2 linked regions of the Homo sapiens genome follow. The protein of the gene in region 1 interacts with the protein of each later gene in a pairwise test. Each region holds a gene or a part of one and is shown in the gene's direction. Other genes may lie near its edges. The genes, in order: ITSN2 and KIAA1549.

Region 1 (9,544 bases):
AAACTCGTCCAAGAAAACTTGACCTGTACAGAATTACTAAGCAGGGAGTTACCATTGTTCGGTACATCTCAAGGCTAAAATCTTGATCTCTCCTGAATATGAGGAGGTGTGTTAGGCATGTTTTGGGGATTGGATTAATAGTGTTAAAAAATTTGTATTTTCACAAAAATAGCATGTACCCATCACCCAAACTCAGCAGCTTTCAAGAAGCTTTTCTTTTTTTCTTTCTTATTTTAAAAAATCCTTTAACCTTATGTAGTTAGTATATCTTTTTTAAAAAGTAGAAAATCATGTAACCTTAGGATTTTTAGTTTTAATGTAGAGTTTCACAAATTTCCATCTTTAGTAAGACAAAAGGGTCACATATTGGCTGTCTCCTTCAACTATACTTTCTTCAGTATAAAATATGTTTACCATGGTTGTCATTTATCGAGCACGTAACTGCATGTTAGACTCTATGCTAAGTGTTTTACATAATCATTTAAAGCTCACTAAGGCCCTAGGAGTAATTATTATCTTCCCATCAAAAAGGTAAGTGAAATGTTAACCTGAAGTTTGACTACTTTAGGTCTCTGAGCTAGTAAGTACAATAGCCAGGTTTCAAACCAAGATCCTTTTAACTGCAGCACCTGTGCCTTATCTGGTAGAGTCATCTTGGTTCATACATTTAAAAAAGAGTTATCTATGTGCCGGGTGCCCTGGCTCATGCCTGTAATCCCAGCACTTTGGGAGGCCGAGGAGGGCGGATCACCAGGTCAGGAGTTTGAGACTGACCAATAAGGTGAAATCCTGTCTCTACTAAAAAATACAAAAAATTAGCCTGGCATGGTGGCGTGCGCCTGTAGTCCCAGGTACTCAGGAGGCTGAGGCAGGAGAATCGTTGAACCCGGGAGGCGGAGGTTGCAGTGAACCGAGATCGCACCACTGCACTCCAGCCTAGGCGACAGAGTGAGACTCCGTCTCAAACAAAAAAAAGAAAAAAAAAGTTATATGGGCATTCAGTAAAAAATATGTGTTTAGTGAATGAGTGAAAGTACATATTAGTCCATTAAGTAGCATTTTTACATATTGTATTTACTTGTAAAACATTTATATTAACAAGTTCCAGAAATGATTCAGAATAAACGAGTTACATTACCAAAAATGTGATATATTTATTACCATCTAACGGTGCATTTTCTTTTTCTTTTTTTGGATTCAAGTTTTTTTAGTACCTTTTTTATTTATGGAAAAAATTTGTGAAAAAACTGTTTTTGAAGAAAGGCAGACTTTCTTGTGTGCCGATTTTTTTTTATTTCTTACAAAAAAAACAGGATATATGTGCAGAACGTACAGGTTTGTTACATAGGTATACGTGCACCGTGGTGGTTTGCTGCACCTATTCACCCGTCCTCTAAGTCCCCTTCCCTCATTGCCCCCCCACAACAGGTCCTGGTGTGTGTTGTTCCCCTCTGTGTCCATGTGTTCTCAATGTTCAACTCCCACTTATGAGTGAGAACATAGGGTGTTTGATTTTCTGTTCCTGTGTTAGTTTGCTGAGGATGATGGCTTCCAGTTTCGTCCATGTCCCTGCAAAGGACATGATCTCATTCCTTTTTATGGCTGCATAGTATTCCATGGTGTATGTATATCACATTTTCTTTATCCAGTCTATCATTGACGGGCATTTGGGTTGGTTTGGTGTCTTTGCTATTGTAAATAGTGCTGTAGTAAACATACGTGTGCATGTGTCTTTAGAGTAGAATGATTTCTATTCCTTTGGGTATATACCCATTAATGAGATTGCTGGGTCAAATGATATTTCTGGTTCTAGATCCTTGAGGAATTGCCATACTATCTTCCACTATGGTTGAACCAATTTACATTCCCAGCAACAGTGTAAAAGCGTTCCATTTCGCCACAGACTTGCCAGCATCTATTGTTTTCCTGACTTTTTAATAATCACCATTCTGACTGGCATGAAATGGTATCTCATTGTGTTTTTTTTTTTTTGAGACGGAGTCTCACTCTTGTTGCCCAGTCTGGAGTGCAATGGCGCGATCCCAACTCACTGCAACCTCCGCCTCCTGGGTTCAAGTGATTCTTCTGCCTCAGCCTCCTGAGTAGCTGGGATTACAGACGCCTGCCACCACGCCCTGCCAATTTTTGTCTTTTTAGTAGAGACATGTTGGCCAGGCTGGTCTAGAACTCCCAACCTCAGATGAGCCACCCGCCTTGGCCTCCCAAAGTGCTGGGATTACAGGCTTGAGCCACTGCACCCGGCCATCATTGTGGTTTTGATTTGCAGTTCTCTGATGATCAGTGATGTTGAGCCTTTTTTCATGTTTGTTGGCCTCAAAAATGTCTTCTTTTGAGAAGTGTCTATTCATATCCTTTGCCCACTTTTTGGTGGGGTTTTTTTTTTCTTGTAGATATGTTTAAGTTCCTTGTAAATTCTGGATATTAGACCTTTGTCAGATGGATAGATTGCAAAAATTTTCTCCCGTTCTGTGGGTTGCCTGTTCACTCTGATGATAGTTTCTTTTTTTCTTTCTTTTTTTTTTTTTTTTTGAGACAGGGTCTTGCTCTGTCTCCCAGGCTGGAGTGCCGTGGTGCCATCTTGGCTCACCACAATCTCTGCCTACCAGGTTCACCTCCCAAGTAGCTGGGATTATAGGCATGTGCCACCACGTCCAGCTATTTTTTTTTTTTTTGAGATGGAGTCTCGCTCTTGTCCCCCAGGCTGGAGTGCAATGGTGCGATCTTGGCTCACTGCAACCTCAGCCTCCGGGGTTCAAGTGTGATTCTCCTGCCTCAGCCTCCTGAGTAGCTGGGATTACAGGCGCCTGCCACCATGCCCAGCTAATTTTTGTATTTTTAGTAGAGATGGGGTTTCACCATGTCCAGGCTGGTCTCAAATTCCTGACCTCAGGTGATCCACCCGCCTCGGCCTCCCAAAGTGCTGGGATTACAGATGTGAGCCACTATGCCTGGCCTTTTTGTAATTTTTTAAAAATAGAGACAGGGTTTCACCATGCAGGCCAGGCTGGTCTGGAATTCCTGACCTCAGGTGATCCTCCCACCTCGGCCTCCTATAGTGCTGGGATTATAGGCATGAGCCACTGCACCCAGCCTGATGATAGTTTCTTTTGCTGTGCAGAAGCTCTTTAGTTTAATTAGATCCTATTTGTCAATTTTGGCTTTTGTTGCAATTGCTTTTGGCATTTTTGTCATGAAGTCTTTGCCCATGCCTATGTCCTGAATGGTATTGCCTAGGTTTTCTTCTAGGGTTTTATGGTTTTGGATTTTATATTTAAGTCTTTAATTCATCTCAAGTTAATTTTTGTATAAGGTGTAAGGAAGTGGTCCAGTTTCAGTTTTCTGCATATGGCTAGCCAATTTTCCCAGCACCATTTACAGAATAGGAGATCCTTTCCCCATTGCTTGTTTTTGTCTTGTTTGTTGAAGATCAGATGGTTGTAGATGTGTGGTGTTATTTCTGAGGTCTCTGTTCTGCTCCATTGGCTTATATGTCTGTTTTGGTACCAGTGCCATGCTGTTTTGGTTACTGTGTGCTGATTTTAAAGACAGGATTCCAAGTGTGAAGTAGAAAAATAAGAATGTTTATAATTAATTCTGTAAGTGGATAGATCTAAAGTTGAAGGTACATCAGAAATACTGTATTTTTTACTTGAGTTCATTTTTTGGATTTTGTAACATCCTACAGCTGTGGAGCGCAGAAACTAATGTTAGAGTTCTCTTGGGTAAAGTGTGAATATAGGTATTCTTGAGGAGGAGGAACTGAACTGGTCTTAAAGGATATGAGAGCAAAGAGGAAGTGGGAGAGGAAGGGAGGAAACTGAACAGAATTAGGACAGTTAATAGATCAAGAAATATGTATTTTCACAGCTCCAAGAGGGCAGCATATTTCATTTGCAGAATGTATAGTATTGTTTCAAAAGGTTCACTTAAAATATAATTTCATAGATACATCAGGACATTAAATGATTTATTTACTTGTGGAGCTATTCAGCAGTGGATTATGGCAGACATTTAGTGGATTAGGGGACTATTACCAGACGGTAAACATTTGTTTTATTTAACTGTTTCATATTTTTAAGATCATTTTCTTCACGAATGCGTATTCATTTTAGATAAAGTATATGTGATTTTAATAAAAATTTCATTTATTTTCATCATAACCATAGAGGATAAGAGTACAGCCTCTGAAGTTAGACCTGCTTCCAGCTCTGACACCAAATAACTGTATAATCTTGGGCAAGTTACTTTAATTCTCTTCAGCTTCTGTTTCCTTATGTGTGAAATGGGGAAATATTAGCTAGTTCCTAGTGTTGTTATATGTAATATAAAGTGCTTAGCACAGTGACTTCTGCTTAGTGTAAGTGCCTAATGTTACCTGTTGTTTTAACTTGGTTCAGTGAGAAATTTCAAACTAACCTAACATAGTTCTTATTTTGGTCTTTGTTTTACACCGTGACTGGAAAGGAAATTAGCCTTTTGCCCTTAATTTTTAATCTTACCATCGGAATAATCTATATAAGAAGGCTGAAAAGTAGGGTAGTACAGACCCACAATCCCACTGGGCTCAATTTCCAAATTTGTTTTTAACATTCTCAAGGGGCCTATGAAAATGTTTAGTGAAGCCTTCTTTAAAGTGTGGTTTATCTTGGGCCAGCCCCACAGTTGGTGATGGCCTTGGGCCTGAGACCCTTCCAGGATGGGCCTGGTGATGGTATCAGTGATAATGAGGTAACCATGATAACATGTAACAACTTGTAGTGTAGGGCTTGGCACTTAGTAAATATTGATGATTGATGGCTGCTGTTTTAATTTTCATAATAAATATGCACATTTATATCAAAATGTAAGTTTTAAATTGTAAGAACATAAGCAGTTTCCATGTTATTATGTGGTCTAACTGAACTTGATCACAAAATAGCTTTATTGAGATTTAATTCACATATCATATGAATTTGATTTTAAGTGGAAGCATGATACTTGGCTTAGTATATTCCTTTATTTTTGGACATTCATTTTTAGTTTTTTTCAATGATTACTAATGCTGCCATATCTTTGTAATTAAAGCATTTCCCACATTTACTGTTATTTCCTTATGACAGATTCCCAGAAATGAAATTATTGCTTTATAGGATATGAATGTTGGTGGGACTCTTGATATATGTTTTCACAGTGCCTTCTGAAGAGTGATACCAATACGTATTCCCATGGGCTGTACCTGCAAGCACCCTATTTAATTCACCTTTGCTAGCCCTGGGTATTGGCCAGTGTTTTGTTTTGTTTTGTCTTTGAGACAGGGTCTGGCTCTGTTGCCCAGGCTGGAGTGCAGTGGCGGGATCTCAGCTCACTGCCATCTCAGCTCACTGCAACCTCCTTCTCCTGGGCTCAAGCCATCCTCCCACCTCAGCCTCCCGCTGGGACCAACTAATTTTTTTGTAGTTTTTATTGAGGCAGGTTTACACCATGTTTCCCAGGCTGGCCTCAAACTCCTGAGTTCAGACGATTCGCCCCCACTCAGCCTCCCAAAGTGCTGGGATTACAGGCATGAGCCACTGTGGGTAGCCTCGTTTTCTTAATTATTAGTGATGTTAACATTTATTAACTACTTTTATTTCTTCTGTTTCTTCTTTCGTAGATTATTTATTTGAGGTCTTAGTGTTTTCGTTATCTATTTTAATAGCCCTATGTACATTAAAAATATCAACTGCTTATCATGTGTTGTGATTTTTCCCCATTTACCTTTTAAGTTTGTTTTCAAGGAAGTTTTAAATATTTGTTATATAGATGATATAGAATCTGCTTATTCTTTCTTTTGTTTTCTTGTATGGCTTCAAAACTTAAAAGTTGTCTTTGTTTCAAAGAGGTGATGTTTTACTTGAAAGTGAAGCATCTGTCTGAATTTCTTTCCCTCTGTACTTTTTATTCATGTCAAGTAAATAGTTTTGCTGTAATATTTAGTTCTGATATGAGACAGATGACAATAGGCTAAATATTATCAGTCCCCCTGGGACCCCTTATAGGAATGCAGGCTGAGTCACAAGCTATTCTTAGGTATTTTTATCCCCCTTTGTGTGGGTGAATTGTCTTGTTCAGAGTTGTTGACTATTCTTCAAAAATTGGTTTGATTTAAATCTTCAATAGAATTTGAGTACTAACCACTTCAGTATTAGTTTGCTATTCCTGTCCTTTTATGTCTCCTGGCTTATTGGTTGATTTTTTTGAAGGCTAAACTCAATATTTATAAAAATCTGAGCTTATAATTTGTGTTTAAAAATCTAAACTGAGGTTGCTAAATTGCAGAACTAGAATTAAGAACTAAGTTTGTATAGAGAAGTTATCCTCTTTGAGGCTTTTAGGTCTTAATGCTTTGTATATTTGGGACCCTAAGCCTCTAGATAGAAATGATAACTTTTTTCTCAAATATTGATTAAAGTGAGAAAAACATGTCCTTTTATTAATAATTGGCACAACTCTAATTTGTTTCAGTAAAACAAATTAGATTAGTGATTAGTGATTGTGATTACAACTAAAAGTTGATTAGTGATTATAATTAAAATAATGTTGAAATAATTGTTGTAATAATCATAATTTATGGACACCTTCTATGTGCCAGATGTTTTCCAGACATGACATCTAAGCCTTAAAATAACCTGGCATTTAGGTACGATTACAGTAGTACTTTGCTTGTCTGCAAGGAATACATTCCAAAACCCCTAGTGGTTGCTTGAAACCATGGATGGTACAGAAACCTATATACACTATGTTTTTTCCTATATATACATACCTATGATAAAGTTTAATTTATAAATTAGGCACAGTAAGAGATTAATAATAATAAAATTGAACAATTATAACAATATACTGTTAACAATTTCACAGATATAAGACTTGTTCTTACTGTAGATCTTAGCAACCTCAGCATACAATTTTTTCCCTTCTATATTAAGTTGAGAACTTTCACCTTTTCACTTGAAGGAAGTGGCTTCTCCTTGGCATATCCGAATTGCCAGCCTCACTACTCTTGCACTTTGGGGTCATTATTAAGTAAAATAAGGGTTACTTGAACACAAGCACTGTGATACTGTGACAGTCGGTCTGATAACTGAGACAGCTACTAAGTGACTAATGGGCAGGCAGCATAGACACAGTGGATACACCCTGGACAAAGGGATGGTTTTCATCCTGGTTGGGACAGATGCGGGCAATGCAGGATTTTACCATGCTACTCAGGATGGTGCACAATTAAAAATTTATGAATTGTTTATTTCTGGAATTATCCATTTTGTATTTTGAGACCATGGTTGACCACAGGTAACTGAAACTTCAGAAAGTGAAACTGCAGATAAGGGGGTCTACTGTATCCACATTATTTGGTTAGGAAATTGAAGCTATGTCATGTGCAAGTCCACAAAGCTAGGAAGTACTTGCACTGGGATTCAAACTCAAGTTGCTGGGTTTGTCTTCTGTGCAGTTGAAAGAATGCTAACCTGTGCTTATTAAAGAATATTTTAGTGCCTACCATGTGAGTGACTGCTGGGCACTAGGTATATGAAGTTAAAGAGCCATTCAGGAGCTCACAGTCTAATAGAAGCGGGGCAGGCGTGAAAACAAAAGTAACAATACTAGCTGGTATGTAGTTTAATGAGATAATACAAGACAAAATGGGACTGTGGCAAAGGAAGCTATTATTAGTAGAAGTGTCACTCAGAAGGCAGGTAGTTCCACAGGTGCAAAGAGAGGAGGCATGGGAATAAGATCAAGTGGAGGTGGAGGTGGGGAGGTTGAAATACCTGGTAGGGTAGGCGGAAGATAGAGCCTAAAACACCTTGTATGTCACGTGAATAGATTTTTTAAAAACAGCTTTATTGAGATACATATTGTAAAATTCACCCTTTTAAAGTTTACAGTTCAGTGTTTTTTAGTATATTCACAGACTTGTGCAACCAGTATCACTATCTAATTTTAGAACATTTTCGTCGTTCTTAAAAGAACCTCCTATACCCAATGGCAGTCACTTTCCATCTCCCTCAACACCGCTAGCTCTAGGTAGCCACTAGTCTACTTTCTGTGTCTATGAAATTGCCTATCCTAGACATTTCATATAAATGGAATTATACAATATATGGTCTTTTGTGACTCACTTCTTTTACTTACCATAGTGTTTTCAAGATTCATCAATGTTATAGCATAGATCAGTACTTCATTCCTTTTTATGGCCAAATAATATTTTATGGATTATATGGATATACCACATTTTGTTTATTGTTTATTCATTCATCCATCTGTAGTTGATGGACATTTGCTTCCACTCGGTTGCTTCTACTTTTTGGCTATTGTGAATAATGCTGCTGTGAGCATTTGTGTACAGGTTTTGGGACATGTTTTTATTTATCTTGGGTTCATACTGAGGGGTGGAATTGCTGACTTAACATGGTAACCTATGTTTAACATTTTGAGGAAATTCTGAATTGTTTTCCAAAGCAGTTGATCTATTTTATATTCCCACCAGCAATGTATGTGGGTTCCAGTTTAGGAGGTTAATTTTATACTATTGGTGAGCCATTACTCAGAATCACAGTGGAAAAATTGTTGAAAATTATTGGCTTAGATTAATGCTTCCTCAGTATGGTCCAAGACACTCACTAGATCAGAAGCTTTTCCTAATGGATCATGAACCAGAAATACAAGCCGTCTCCTCAGTTCTCAGGGGCTATTGTTATTCCATTCCCATAACCTCTGATATTTATGTATTAGAATAGGCTACCTACCAATAATCTGAGTTACTAAGGATTACTGAAATTTAGTATTCACAACTAAAATTAGCTGGTTTCTAGAACTTACCGAGGGCTCTAGTTTAGTTTTCTTCTAAGAAATCTGTCAGCTATACCATGCTTTGGCAGCACTAGAAAATTAGTACTATGCATGCCCACACTCAGAAGATATTTTCACTACATCAGTGGTGTTGTCTCAAATTGGCTGTGGTTCCAGTTGCTGTTATTTTTGGATTAATACAATTGTAGAATTAATGTTACATTTAAATTTTTGTGGACCGTTTTGCTCTTGTGTACTTGTTACATTGCTACAATTCTTCCTTAGGGAGTTATTTTTGCACTAGAAAATGGGAGGAGGTAGGTAGGCTGGATCTCTTGTCTTACTTAGGTGGGTGATGGTTAGAATAGTTTGGGAATGAGGCTGCTGCTCGGCCTATGGAGTAGCCATTCTTTTATTCCTTTAAAAAAATAGTTTGGGAATGAGTGGATTACATAATTGGAAGGGTCTTTCCCACTTCATTATCTTTTTTTAAGAATGAGGGTTTGTGTATGTTATCATTAAACATTTAAGCTATGGAACACATGAACTGTCTGAAAGTCTACAGTTGGCTTTGGATGTGTGAAACCTTCAGAATTATGTGCCATATTTTGTACATTTGTGTTTTTCCAGGGAGAACAACCATAGGTTTTATCAGATTAAAATAAAAAAGTCTATGACCACTCAAATTAAATAATTCAGGTTGATGAAAAGAATT
Region 2 (9,544 bases), on another chromosome or scaffold:
CTTAGGCAAGGAATCCTACAGCCAGGTTGTATGGAAGACAACAAATGCTGTATAATATTGCTATGAAACAACTTAAAATATCGATTAAAAAATCTTTGTATTATTTATTCATTTTAAAAATTCATATGATAGAGAAAGGAATATAACCCTTTAAGCATTTTATATGTGGTTTAAGTTGGTGACTTTCAGATGCTAGGAGAACCAGCTAGAAATATTTTATCTATGGCACTAAATATTATTTACAAATTTTGGTATGTAGAAACAAAAATCTATTCACAGAATTTTGTCTTAACTCTTGATCTCCATCTCTGCTAGTGAGTCAACAATACCTCTGGCTGTCCCTCTTATAGCTTCTATGCATAACTTTTAATTCCATATAATATGTCTTTTGTAAACTCACCAATTACATAGGAGTATTACTGTTCATTTATACCATCAGTATTTGTTTAGATTTAACCATATATTTATCTTTTTTTTTTTCTTTTTGAGATGGAGTCTCGCTCTGTTGCCCAGGCTGGAGTGCAATGGCATGATCTCAGCTCACTGCATTCTCCACCTCCCGGGTTCATGTGATTCTCCTGCCTCAGCCTCTGGAGTGGCTGGAACTACAGGTGCATGCCACCACACCCAGCAAATTTTTTATTTTTAGTAGAGACAGGGTTTCACCGTGTTGGCCAGGCTGGTCTCGAACTCCTGACCTCAGGTGATCCACCTGCCTTGGCCTCCCAAAGTGCTGGGATTACAGGCGTGAGCCACCACGTCTGGCCTTATGTTTATCATTTATTCTCTATTCTCAGATCTTCCTGCTGAGGCAATAACCCTTCTATTTGAAGGTTATCCTTATTTAGAAGCTCATTTACTGTGGGTCTTCTTTTGGTATAACCACTGTTAAGCTGAAAATGTCTTGATAGAGATTTTTCCTGGTTATTCACCTCTGAGATGTCAGAGAGTTTCTCTCAGCACTTGAGGATTTTGTTTCATTGTCACCTGGCTTCTAATTCTGTCAGGCAGTTATTTTTGCTTAAGTTTAGCTGCTGTTTCCTTTTTCTCTGACTGCTTTTACAATTTCTCTTTGTCTTTGGTCTATGGTATCATGATGTGTATAGGTTTGGATTTTTCTTTTTTTTTAATTCACCCTCCTTGGGATTTTTTGGTCTTTCTGAATTGCATGGTTCGTTTCTCATATTAATTTTGGCAAATTCTTAGCACTATGTCTTTGAATATTGTATCTACCCTATTCCATTTTATTTTTTTCCTAAAACTTTGATCAAATGTATGTTGGACTGTCTTATTCTGTCTTCTATGTCTCTTAACTTCTTTTTTTAATATTTCACATTTATTTGTTTCCCTGTTCCCTTTTCTGAGTAATTTCTTCAGACCTATCCCCCAGTTCACTAAATCTTGTTTCAGCTCTGTCTAAATTGCTGTTTTACATGTATATTGAGTTTAAAATTTATTAATTATAAAATTTTTATTTCTAAATGTTTTAAAAATATTTCTGGCCAACTTTTATAGTCTCTTGCTCATTACTCATGTTTTCAGTCTTTATTATTTTAAATGAATTAAATATAACCTTAAAAAATGGGTCTCATAATTCCAATATCTAAAGTTTTTATAGATCTGATTCAATTTAGTTGGCCTTTTAAAAAAATACTTTCTTCATGGGATTTCTCTTGACTTTTGTTCATGGTACTTTGCTTTCCTATGTATTTTATAATTTTTACTTCTGTGCTCTGCAACTCTAGCTGCAGGAATACTTTGAAACCAGACTGTGAATATGTTCTTCTGGGTGTGATTTATGTTAGTTTCTGACAGGCGCTGGAGACCTGGTCCACTTTAAATTATGACTCTAAGCATACAGTTGTTAGGACTATACAAGTAGTATAGGTTCCACACTCGGGATGACGTTTCGTACAATAGCTATACAAAGTCAGAGCTGAGACATATACTTTTCCCTTGTTTGGCTTAAACAGCAGAAATTGATTGTCTCACCGTTCTGGAGGCTAGAAGTCCAAGTTCAAGGGTGGCTTCCTTCTGAAGCCTGTGAGGGAGAATCTGCTTCAGGGCTGTCCCCTAGCTGCTGGTGATTTGCTGTCAATCTTTGCTGTTCCTTGACTTGTAGACGCATCATCATGCTCTCTGCCTTCATCTTCACATGGTGTTCTCCTTCTGTGTATGTCTGTGTCCAAATTTCTGCCTTTTTTTATTTTTATTTTTTTTTGAGACGGAGTCTCACTTTGTCTCCCAGGCTGGAGTGCAGTGGTGCAATCACGGCTCTCTGAACCCTCCGCCTCCTGGGTTCAAGCGATTCTCCTGCCTCAGCCTCCTGAGTAGCTGGGATGACAGGTGTGTGCCACCATACCCGGCTAATTTTTGTATTTTTAGTGGAGATGGGGTTTTGCCACGTTGGCCAGGCTGGACTCGAACTCCTGACCTCATGATCCGCCCTCCTCGGCCTTCCAAAGTGCTGGGATTACAGGCCTGAGCCACCGCGCCTGGCCCAAATTTCCATCTTTTATACGGTCACCAGTATATTAGATGAGGGACCCACCCTACTTCAGTATGACCGCATCTCAGCTAATTACATCTACACTGACCCTGTTTCCGAATATGGTCATATTGTGAGGTCCTGGGATTTCAACATAGGAATATTGGGAGCACGTAATACATAAGCCATAGCAGTGTCTTAACCTGGGTTTTCCGCCAGAAAGCAAAGTCTGAGACGTGGGTTTATGTGCATATTTTATTCTAGGACATGATCCTGAGGAACAGAAGTGAGAGACTGAGGAGAGTTCAACAGGGAAAAGGGAAAGTCAGTCCAAGGTGTTCTCAAGTCAGACACTATTAGAAACCGATGCCTGTTTTTGCTGTCTTCTGAAAAGTGGATATTTTTCTTCCTAATTCACTCTTTCCCTGAGATTATGACACTTCCTGGGCCTCCACTTTTGGAAAATGGTCTTCAGTTGGGTTCTTTCCTTATCTAGGCTAACACTTGTCCCTCATCTCCGTTGTGGCCTAAACAACAGGCCAGCTGGTCCAGTACCTGCCTTGGGTCCCCAGTCACTGCCCTTGAGCAGCTCCTGTTTTATTCCTGGATTCAGCACGTTCCCCTTACTGTCTTGCAGGCCATCCAGTCACTTAGAAGATGGTTTTTAAACATTTATTAAGCAATCTTAAATGTTCTGAAGTAGACAGTTTCAAGATCTCTAGTCTGCCATGTTGCTAGAAACAGAATAGAAATGACTTACTTAAAAAAATAGAGTAAATTCAAGACTGTCCTTATACCATTTCACACAGGTATGTTCTGATAGACTGTTGGGATTAGAGAAACGAGGTGTTGTTATGCATTTTGATAGTTGCTCAGTTCTCAGCCTGGGCTGCAGAGGACAGTCCCTGGGCCCTGGGCTTTCATCAGTGGCTGGGCCATCACTTGTCCTTTTTCTCTAGGCTATGTCATACCTGAATTATCGGTGGAGAGGCCTCAACTTACTAAATGATAATGACAGCAGTCACAAGTTAAGGAATACAAAAGTTTGAATGGATGATGGGATAATGTTGGCTTTTGTTGTCAGAACTTGGTATCCTTGGATTTCATTCATTCATTCATTCATTCATTCATCAATCCAAGTGATGTCAATTGAGCTCCTAGCACTTATTGTGCTAGGCACTGGGGAGACAGGTAAACAATGCCTGTCCTTAGGAAGCCCAGAATCTAGTGATCAGATAGTTCATTTCAGTGGGCATGATAAGGACAGGGAGAAGCCTAGGGAGAGGCACGAATCCAACTTCAGAGCATCGAGGATGAAGCTCATATCTGTGCTGCATCTGAAGGGCCAGAAGGAGCCATCCATATAGAGAGCTGGGGAAGGGCATTCCAGGCGGGGGTGAGAGGATCCATCCATGTAGAGAGCTGGGAAGGGCATTCCAGGCGGGGGTGAGAATGTGCACAGCCATGGAGGCCAGAGAGTGTTTGGGTTTGGGGCACTGCAGGTGCCAGAGCATAGCTGGGAAGGCCTAGAGTGGGGCAGGAAATGGTGAAAGCTGAGGCTGCAGGAAGCCTGGGGCCTTCATGTGGAAGCCTCAGCAACTGTGTTGGGGAGCACAGCTGAGGAACTGGGGAACTCTCTTACTTGGGTAGTGAGAGATGCAATGAGTTGTCATGTTCATTTCTCGTAGCAGCCAGCTCCTATCACTGAAGAGAAAACACACAGGCCTTGGAGTCAAGGAAGCCTTATATTCAGATTCCAGTTCCACTCTGTCTGGGTGGTCTTATAATTGATTTATTTACCTTCTGGAAACCTTTCTTTACTCATGTCATAAATGAGAGAAAATGGACTGAACAGCCCCCTCTGTTTCCAGTATCCTACGGTTCTGTGGGAAAAACTGTAAATATGCCCTCCCCACCCCCACACATACACAGCTTAGGTAAAAACAGTGCCCAAGTTTAGGAATATTTGCAGATATTGTCCTGATGGTAATTCTGTCAATTTCTCGTTTCCAGCTAGCTGTTTAACTTCTGACGGTGATTCATGGATATTTATGGTGAATGGATGTTTGTTAAATGAGTAAATTCTCATGCCTGAAACAAAACGTTAGCTGTGTGACTTCCAATGCATTGCACTAACCCAGCTCTGATTTTCTTGATAGATGAGCTCTCTCCGGAACAGCACAACCTTTCTTTATACTCCATGGAGCTCGTGCTGAAGAAAAGCACTGGGCACAGCGCTGCACAAGTGGCCTTAACAGAAACTGCTCCCGGCTCCCAGCACAGCAGTCCTCTCCATGTCACAGCCCCGCCGTCTGCCACTACTTTTGATACAGCCTTTTTTAACCAAGGAAAACAGACCAAAAGTACAGCAGATCCCAGCATCTTTGTGGCAACTTACGTGTCAGTGACGAGTAAAGAGGTGGCCGTCAATGACGATGAGATGGATAACTTTCTGCCAGATACTCACTGGACCACTCCACGGATGGTTTCTCCAATACAGTATATCACAGTCAGCCCACCAGGGCTGCCCAGGGAAGCATTAGAACCTATGCTCACTCCATCATTACCCATGGTTTCTTTACAAGATGAAGAAGTGACATCGGGCTGGCAGAACACAACGCGACAACCAGCGGCATATGCTGAGTCCGCCAGTCATTTCCACACCTTTCGGTCAGCTTTTCGCACCTCTGAGGGCATCGTTCCAACTCCTGGCAGGAATTTGGTGCTTTATCCTACTGATGCTTACAGTCATTTATCAAGCAGGACTCTGCCAGAGATTGTGGCTTCCCTAACAGAGGGTGTGGAAACCACCCTTTTTTTAAGCTCCCGGTCTTTAATGCCACAGCCGTTAGGCGACGGCATTACTATACCGTTGCCCTCCTTGGGGGAGGTCTCACAGCCTCCAGAGGAGGTTTGGGCCACAAGTGCAGACAGATACACTGATGTGACCACTGTGTTGAGTCAAAGCCTAGAAGAAACCATCTCTCCAAGAACATACCCCACTGTGACTGCATCGCACGCAGCCCTTGCATTCAGCAGGACACATTCTCCATTGCTTTCAACTCCTCTTGCATTTGCGTCCTCTGCTTCACCAACTGATGTTTCATCTAACCCCTTTCTCCCTAGCGACTCCAGCAAAACATCCGAATTGCATAGCAATTCAGCCCTCCCCGGTCCTGTGGACAACACTCATATCCTGAGCCCGGTGTCCTCATTCAGACCATACACTTGGTGTGCGGCCTGCACTGTGCCTTCACCTCAGCAAGTTCTGGCCACGAGCCTCATGGAGAAAGACGTGGGATCAGGGGATGGTGCCGAGACTCTGTGCATGACCGTGCTGGAAGAAAGCAGCATCTCTCTAATGAGTAGCGTCGTAGCAGACTTCTCTGAATTTGAGGAAGATCCTCAAGTATTTAATACGCTTTTCCCCTCCAGACCTATCGTCCCACTTTCTTCTAGATCCATGGAAATCTCAGAGACGAGTGTTGGCATTTCTGCCGAGGTGGATATGAGTAGTGTTACAACCACACAGGTTCCCCCTGCCCACGGCCGCCTCTCTGTGCCGGCGTCACTTGATCCTACTGCTGGCTCCTTGTCTGTTGCTGAAACCCAAGTGACGCCATCCAGCGTGACCACTGCATTTTTCTCGGTCATCACCAGCATTCTCCTTGACTCATCTTTCTCTGTCATAGCAAACAAAAACACACCGTCGCTTGCCGTCAGAGACCCGAGTGTTTTTACGCCTTATAGTCTGGTTCCTTCAGTGGAGTCTTCACTTTTCTCTGACCAAGAACGTTCCAGTTTTTCTGAGCATAAACCCAGAGGTGCTTTGGATTTTGCATCCAGCTTTTTCTCAACACCCCCGCTGGAACTCAGCGGCTCCATCTCTTCGCCTTCGGAAGCACCTGCGTCTCTGTCTCTGATGCCGAGTGACTTGTCCCCCTTCACATCTCAGTCTTTTTCTCCCTTGGTTGAGACATTTACATTGTTTGACTCTAGTGATCTGCAGTCATCTCAGCTGTCTCTTCCCAGTTCCACAAATCTTGAGTTTTCGCAGCTCCAGCCAAGTTCCGAGCTGCCTTTAAACACCATCATGTTGCTACCTAGCCGTTCTGAGGTGTCACCATGGTCAAGCTTCCCTTCTGATTCTCTCGAGTTTGTTGAAGCGTCTACGGTTTCACTGACGGATTCAGAAGCTCATTTTACCTCAGCTTTCATTGAAACTACCTCCTATCTTGAGTCTTCACTCATTTCCCATGAATCCGCAGTCACTGCACTGGTGCCCCCCGGCTCTGAGTCTTTTGACATTTTGACTGCCGGGATTCAAGCAACATCACCATTGACCACTGTCCACACAACGCCCATTTTAACTGAGTCTTCTTTGTTCTCAACTCTGACACCTCCTGACGACCAAATCAGTGCTCTAGACGGTCACGTGTCTGTCCTGGCCTCTTTCTCCAAAGCCATTCCCACTGGTACGGTGTTGATCACTGACGCGTACCTGCCATCAGGATCCTCGTTTGTTTCTGAAGCAACCCCCTTCCCTCTGCCCACAGAGCTGACCGTCGTGGGCCCATCACTCACACCCACAGAGGTGCCACTGAACACCTCCACGGAAGTGAGCACAACCAGCACCGGTGCTGCCACTGGTGGTCCCCTCGACTCCACCCTGATGGGTGACGCCGCAAGTCAGAGCCCCCCAGAGAGTAGTGCTGCTCCTCCCCTGCCATCCCTGCGTCCCGTGACTGCCTTCACTCTCGAAGCAACAGTCGACACACCAACACTGGCTACTGCCAAGCCGCCATATGTTTGTGATATCACAGTCCCCGATGCCTATCTGATCACAACTGGTAAGGCCCAGCTTCCTGCCGCCTCTCTGGGGTGGGCAATCTTTCTAAGGAGCTTGTGTGCAGTGCCTGTGAGGCTTGGAGCTTCATGGTTAAGAGCAGAGGCGCTGGGCTCAGTTAACTCCCAGGTAGTACTCCTATGCTTACCTCCTGCGAGTTCTCAGAACAGTTATTTATCCTCTCTAATCGTCTGCTGCCTCACCCATTAAACAAGGAGCTTAGTTAAACCTGCTTCATTGGGCTGTTGTTCAGATGTAAATGCGTTAGTCCCTGCAGAACGCTCAGCCCTTGCCTAGTACATCAGAGGCATGCACGGGATGGTGCATATTAGTCAGCAGTCACAAGGAGAATAAATATTAGAACAAATACAAGAACTAAACAAGCCTTGGAAGTTCTTGGTAGGATCTTTGTCCTACCATAACCCAGTAGGTGCATGGATGACATAGTTTAAACAAAATACTTTTTTGTTTAATTCAAGCAATGAGTTGGGCAACTATGTAAGGGCAACCCTTGCAATTTCTTACTCATTTACTCTTCTTACTTTTCCTTGAAAGGAGACTGCACTTTGCTCTCATAGGTCCCTGTAAATGCCCCTTGGGTCCCGAGGAAAGAAAAGTAAAGTGACTCTTTGCTCTTATAGGTCCCTGTAAATGCTCCTTGGGTCCCGAGGAAAGAAAAGTAGTGACTAAATATCCTCTGAATCCAGTATCAGCCTTTGGTCTCCTCCCCACCACAGCCTGGGTTGCTAGCAGACTGGCCAGCAGCTTCCCTTGCAGTTGCATGGCTGCTGTGGCCGCGTGAAGCTGGTGCCCACCTGAGGGCATGCCTGAGAGGTAGACTGATTTCAAGGGTCATGTCCCGCGACGGTGGCCCGCTTGGTCAGGGTCTCTGCATTTTTCCTCATGAGACATGACAGGTGTATGTGGTCTCGAGGGTCATGACTGTGTGCTGAACCACAGCCTGGTGGTGACGAGCAGCCTGTCCTCTGTTTTGATTTTGGTAGGAGTGGAGGACAGAAATGAAAAAGGGGACGAAAACGGCAGAAGAGGTAGGGAGGAGTGGGGTGGAGTGGACCGGGAAGGAGAGGAGCAGAGAATGTGGAAGGGGGAGAAGGAGGAGAACACGCTGGGTCTTTTCCTCTCTGTGGTCGGGGTTGCTGGGAGCCTCTGCTCACTGTGACAGTGCCACATCCCTCTGGGCAGGTGGGAGCGAGGATCCTGATGGCAGGTACACGTCAGTGATCAACACCCTACCTGTGGGAATGGCTTTGGAGAATGAGTCCAGGACAGCCTTTGCTCCCCACACGCCAAAGGGAAACATTCGTTATTCCACATGGCAAGTAATGATTGAGCACCTAGTATGTGTGAGGTGCTTCTGGAAGCTTCTAGGGATATACAGATGGGTAAGACACGGCCCTCCTGTGAGCAGCTCAGGGCCTAGAGGGTGGTACTGAACCACAGAGTAATAGCAGTGACTGTGGAATTCTCCAAGAGTGGCTATTTGGGATAATCAGAGACGGGTTTGGAAGAATGTGAAATTGGGGATTCCCACAAAAGGAAAAGTAGAATTGTCATCTGGGGATGAAGAGAAAGTGTCTTCTGGGGGAGGAGACTGTCATCATGGCTGGAGATTAGGCATTGTGATGGGAGGAGCAGGTAATTATGCTTGGAAATGTGGTTGGAGCAACATCATGAACTTGAATCTGAAGATTAGAGCAGTCCAGGGAGGAGGGAAAAGAGTTTCTCATGCTCATGATACTTTTCTTCCTTCTTACAAAATTATTACAAAGTAGGTACAAAATTGTTACAAAGTGGTCAGTTGTAAGCAGCTTATTTAAAGAGTCACTGAAAGCTTCTTTAGGAGTCCTCATAGCTGGATTTAACTTTCATATGTGGTGTACACTTAATGACATTTGGTGCCTGTATTAGGTATCCATGTATTTTTAACAGCTCTTTGGAGTAAAATTCAGCCATTGTTAAGTACACTTGAACAGTTTTTGTAAATGTCCAGAGTTGTGTGTGAGTGTCCATGCTGTTAAATTGTGTCTTTTAGCGGAGATAAGTGCCATTTTTGTTCCTGGTGATACCTTTGACCCAGAGGAAGTATCGGCTCATTTCTTACCTTTGCTTAGGTTGGACCTTGCTGTCCTTTTCATGGTTGTCCGTTAGTGAGAGAGTGTGGTGAGGGGGTTGAGGTGACTCCGCGTACC

What was found.
Region 2: the proteins of ITSN2 (region 1) and KIAA1549 interact in a two-hybrid assay, tested with the Homo sapiens proteins (one study listed by BioGRID and IntAct).

Annotation. Positions count from the first base shown.
Region 1 is NC_000002.12:24,349,352-24,358,895, reverse strand, and holds part of ITSN2 (intersectin-2), read left to right. Parts: intron 1-9,544.
Region 2 is NC_000007.14:138,914,542-138,924,085, reverse strand, and holds part of KIAA1549 (UPF0606 protein KIAA1549), read left to right. Parts: intron 1-4,647; coding exon 4,648-7,338; intron 7,339-9,544. UniProt on the Homo sapiens protein: May play a role in photoreceptor function.